Linked DNA regions of Homo sapiens: region 1 is linked to region 2. Evidence: fine-mapped expression QTL. Tissue or cell type: whole blood. Region 2 holds a variant in brackets; the other region holds the start of a gene. All regions are shown on one strand. Distances are from middle to middle.

The links. PIP is the estimated chance that this variant, and not a neighbour inherited with it, causes the effect.
Region 1: BMERB1 starts here. The variant in region 2 is fine-mapped to the expression of BMERB1 in whole blood (TOPMed, PIP above 0.99). The same link has a PIP of 0.9 or more in nasal epithelium.

What each region holds. Positions count from the first base shown.
Region 1 is chr16:15,433,069-15,435,750 of GRCh38, reverse strand. It overlaps BMERB1 (bMERB domain containing 1), which reads right to left and starts at 1,163. Exons shown (of 6, transcript NM_033201.3): 1 at 992-1,163. The coding sequence starts at 1,097. The region is part of intron 1 of MPV17L-BMERB1 (MPV17L-BMERB1 readthrough); the gene reads right to left. RefSeq lists an enhancer at 237-859.
Region 2 is chr16:15,549,341-15,552,022 of GRCh38, reverse strand. The region is part of intron 2 of MPV17L-BMERB1 (MPV17L-BMERB1 readthrough); the gene reads right to left. All of the region lies in intron 2 of BMERB1 (bMERB domain containing 1), which reads right to left. Among named protein-coding and RNA genes, the nearest start is that of MIR6506, 60 kb to the left of the region's middle. The variant G/A (reference allele first, on the strand shown) is at 1,035.

The DNA.
Region 1 (2,682 bases), 120 kb after region 2:
TTCCACCAGGTGAGGACAGAATAAGATCACATTCACAATACTTTAGCCCTACATCGCTCAGAGATCCGTGCTGGGGCAGAGCGCGGAGCAGTGACCCAGAGCCGAGGCAGGAAGCTGCCGGGTCCCTGAGAAGGACCTCTCCTTCCCAGCCTGGTGGGCAAGCCATGTGAGAGCAGCGGCTTTGGGGAGCCCCCGGGTTTGCAGGGACCTCCAGTGACCCTGGAGCCCCTGACGCTGCCTCTACACTTTGAGGGCAGGAGTTTCAACTATTGTATCCTATTAATGAAAAACAAAATCCTTCGTTTACTTAGAAATGTTGACATCCAAACACCGCAGAGAGAACCAGTAAATAAATACAGCCGGTCTATTTCGAAACTGCCTTCTAGAGTTGTGCCCAAGCAGACTTTAACTGAGTCAAGAGAGAAAAGAGAACGGTGTGTGCCTTTTGACCCTTTTGCCGCCCCAAGCCTCCCACCCCGACCCAAGGAAGGCGAGGGAGGAAAAGCTGGGAATTTCAGGTGCGCTCCGAAACCTCACGCAGGGGGTAGGAAAGCAAGCGGAAAACCAGCAGACACTCCCCCCTCTCCAGGGACGTGGGCGCTTTCCAGGACGGTCCCGCGTCTCCAGCGCCCTGGCGCATCCCAGGCGGAGAGAGGATCCTCCTCCCTGGGCTGTGGGAGAGACCCGACTTCACAGGACCAGCTGCGAGCTGACGGATCCGGGACTCCTAAGTCGAGCCCAGGCTCCTGCCTTAGCTGCCTGGCCATCTCCCAACCCTCCCAGTGAGGCTCAGCCCGGAGGGTCCCCCCCTTTTGTTCGCGGGGAGAGCGCGTCGCTGCGCAGAGCTGCGTATCCCCCTGAGCTGCCAGCCCCGCTGCGGGGGCGCTTCCCTGGGTCCACTGCTGGCGTTCCTCGCGCTCCCGCGACCACCCGCGCAGGCGCATGGATCCCCAGCTGTCCCCGGCCCCCCGCCCCCCGCCCCAGTACTCACTTCTCCCCAGTCTCTCCGTTTTCCAAGCCGTCTCCTCCACCGCCCCATAGCGCCTCAGAGGCTTCTCGGCTTCCAGATGGGTGGACAAAGATTGCTTTAATTCCATCGCTGATCCCCGTGGCCAGGTCGACGGGTCTCCCTTTACTCCATTCCCGTTGCGGGCTGCAGGGAGGGAGGTGGCTCCAGCCAGCAGCGTTTTAACGGGCCGGGCGCCCGTGACGCTGCTCCCTCTCCTCCGCCGCCGCCAGCGCCCGGGAGCGCCTACGGGTACCCAGAAGGGGCAGGGATGCACGGCACATGCGCAGTGGAGGCTTGGAGGGGAGGCTTGGGGGCTGGGTAGGGAGACAGAGGGGCAGGTGATAACTCTAAGAAAAACAACAAACAAAACAACTAAAATAAAAGCAACACAAAGGAAGTGAGAACAAGGCCCCTGCCTATTCTAGAGCCCCTAGTGATGCTTGGCATGGGGCTGGCACTGTGGGCGGCTTGCGAGCTGTAAGCCGGCAGCGGGTTTTGAGTGGGATTGGTGAGCCCGTCTCTACCTGCGGGCGATGCATCCGTCTTTCTGGGGAGCATGCAGAGGCGTGAGTGTGGACCTAGATCTATGGGTTCTGGGCTTGGCTGACTGCTTTTCTGTGAGAATATCTGTCGTGTGCGTCTGTTTAATTTGAAGTGCGACAGTGGATGCCTATGTCAGTTCCATATGTGTTTGCATGCACTTTGGGGAGAGAGAGAGAGAGATGAAAATATTTTGCACACAGGTATAGCAGAGCTGTTTGGAGCATGGGGCTTTACTTTCCAGAAACCCCAGAGGTTTATCTTTAAAAACAAACAAACAAACAAACAAAAAACACCATGGCAGTGCCTGGGCACGATGGCTCATGCCTGTAATCCCAGCACTTTGGGAGGCCGAGGTGGGTGGATCACTTGAGGCCAGGAGTTTGAGACTAGCCTGGCCAACATGGTGAAACCCCATCTTTACTGAAAATACAAAAATTAGCCAGCTGTGATGGCGCAGGCCTGTAATTCCAGCTACTCGGGAGGCTGAGGCAGGAGAATCGCTTGAACCTGGGAGGCAGAGGTTTCAGTCATCCGAGATCATGCCATTGCACTCCAGCCTGGGCAACAAGAGGAAAACTCCGTCTCAAAAAAAGAAAAGAAACGAAAAAAAGAAAATGATATCCCAGTAGGAAACAGGGAAAGAATATGAATAGTCATGTCATGTGGGCAGAGGAGGAAGGCCTAATGTGAGAAGCTGCTCAACCCCCTTAGTAATAAGGAAAATGAAAATGTAAATAAGAATATATCATCCGATAGGCAAAAACTAAAAAATCTAACAATCATGTGTTGTAAAAGATGTGGATTTTTTTTTTGAGACAGAGTCCAAAAATGCTGGGGTTACAGATGTGAGACACCATGCCTGGCATAATTTGAACTTTTATCTAATGCTAGTGGGAGTATAAATTGGTACAACTGTTTTTTTCTCTCTGTCACCCAGGCTGGAGTGCAGTGGCATAGTCTCGGCTCACTGAAACCTCCACCTCCTGGGTTCAAGCTCCTGAGTAGCTGCGACTACAGGCGTGCCACCATGCCCAGCTAATTTTTTGTATTTTTAATGGAGATGTGGTTTCACCATGTTGGCCAGGCTGGTCTCGAACTCCTGAGCTCAAGTGATCTGCCCGCCTTGGTCT
Region 2 (2,682 bases):
GCCTTTGGCTAAGCTGGCCCAGAATAATTAAAGATGTGAACAGAGATTAAGCTCCAGGTGGGCACAGCAGCTCCTGCCTGTTATCCCAGAACTAAGGGAGGCCGAGGCAGGAGGATCGCTTGAGTGCAGGAGTTCAAGAGAGCTGCTGGTTTTAAATGTGGCACTTCCTACACTCATTTTCTCTTGTGCTGTCTCTCTCCTGCCGCCACGTAAGACGTGCTTGCTTTCCCTTCGCCGTCTGCCATGACTGCAAGTTTCCTGAGGCCTCCCCAGCCATGCAGAACTGTGAGTCAATTAAACTTCTTTCCTTTATAAATGACCCAGTCTCGGGTAGTATCTTTACAGCAGTGTCAGAACAGACTGGTACACAGCCCATGTGCATCCCTGTGTAAAGCCTGGCCCCAAGGAGTTCTCTTGAACTCCTGCACTCAAGCCTTTGCCCAACTCCTCCCTCAGCTCAGAAATCTTTGTCTCAAACTAAGTGCTCTGCAGCTTCACTAATCCCTTCTCCTTCTGGAATCTTCCTGATGCCCTCAGCTACATCAGGTCCTCTTCCTTCCTGCAGCCATAGCCCCCTTGTTATCCCATTGACATCTAGGCATTCCAGAACCATCTAGGCATTTGTGTTTCTGCCTCAACAGACTGCACCTCCTTTAAGGGACTTTGCCTTTTTCCTTCATGGTTCTAGCACACCACCCCGTCCCTGATACATTGCAGTAAATACACAAGGAAGGAAGGAAGGCTGGCAGGCATGGAGGGTACACACAGTACTGCATTTTGTTGAAACAAGGCCTAAAGACTGCAGGTGCAGGTGGAAAAATTTCAAGTCTCATGATAGACACCACGAGGGCAATCGCATCTATCAAAGGCGGTGAGTCAGCCCTGGAGAAATCCAATTAAACATCCGTCATTCGAGTGATACTGCTTTGCATTCTGCTATCAATACCGTTTCTATTCTGAGCTGGCTCAGCATCTGGGCTCTCTTGTGCCTTCCACTCTCAGTCACCTGCTGCGAGTTCCTGCCACTGTGTGGC[G/A]TCCTCTCCCCCAAATCCACCCTCTCCACTCCCAAGTCCATCCCTCCTCTCAAGCTGATGCCAACAAAAGCTGATTTGTATCCAGCCCAATCTCATTGAATCCTCATCATCTGTAGGGTGGTATTCTTATTCTCCACTTTACAGAACTCTCAGAGAGGTTAAGTAAATCGCCCGAGATCAGACAGCTTGCAAGATTTGAAAGAAGACAGTCTAACTCCAGAGCCCTGACAATTGCCACTACAACAGACTGCCTACGCATGTCACCCAGATATACCAGGCTGTCATCTTCTGTTCCCATACCCCCTTACTTTATCCCGTTCTTTCAGTCAGGAGCCTTCTAAAATGCTTTCAGGCCGGGCGCGGTGGCTCATGCCTGTAATCCCAGCACTTTGGGAGGCTGAGGCAGGCAGATCACTTGAGCTCAGGAGTTTGAGATCAGCCTGGGCAATACGGTGAAACCCCGTCTCTACTTAAAAAAAAAAAAAAAAATTAGCCAGGCATGGTGGTGGGCACCTGTAGTCCCAGCAACTTGCGGGGCTGAGGTGGGAGGATCGCTTGAACCTGGGAGGCAGAGGTTGCAGTGAGCTGAGATTGTGCCACTGCACTCTGGCCTGGGTGACAGAGTGAGACTTTCACCAGTGGCAGTTCCAAGGAGTGGGCTTTCTTAGGGATGGCAGGGAATGGTTTCAGTCCCACCTCGTAATTTCCATTAGCCTTCAAACCACCTCAACATTTAAAAAGTGCTTTTGGGCCGGGCGCGGTGGCTCACACCTGTAATCCCAGCACTTCGGGAGGCCGAGGCGGGGTGGATCACGAGGTCAGGAGATAGAGACCATCCTGGCTAACACAGTGAAACCCTGTCTCTACTAAAAAACACAAAAAATGGTGGTAGGTGCTTGTAGTCCCAGCTACTCGGGAAGCTGAGGCAGGAGCATGGCGTGAACCCGGGAGGTGGAGCTTGCAGTGAGCCGAGATGGCACCACTGCACTCCAGCCTGGGCGACAGAGCAAGACTGCATCTCAAAAAAAAAAACGTGCTTTTGAAATGGGAAATATCAGGTAGGATAGAAGCAATAAGAGAAAATGAAATAAAGAAATGGGAAATAGACATTTTTCCCAATTTTGTGGAAAGTGTAAGAAAAAAACTTGATAGAAACTATGCAATTTTAATTAATTTGTACGACACAAATCTCACTAAAAACCATGGACTCCCTACTGCGAAGGCAGCTCTAAGGTAAGTCCCCTGATTGTTTCATGTGACCAACTGGCTGGCCCTAAGCCCCTCCTGTTTAGGAATTTTTTTTTTTTTTTTTAGACAATGTCTCACTCTGTCGCCAGGATGGAGTGCAGTGGCGTGATCTCAGCTCACTGCAACCTCCGCCTCCTGGGTTCAAGGAATTCTCCTGCCTCAGCCTCCTGAGTAGCTGGGACTACAGGCGCCCGCCACCACGCCCAGCTAATATTTGTATTTTTAGTAGAGACAGGGTTTCACCACGTTGGCCAGGATGGACTCCATCTCTTGACCTAGTGATCCGCCTGCCTCTGCCTCCCAAAGTGCTGGGATTACAGGCGTGAGCCACCGCACCCGGCCCTGTTTAAGAATTTTAAAGCAATCACTCCATTTTTTTTTTTTTTTTTTTTGAGATAGA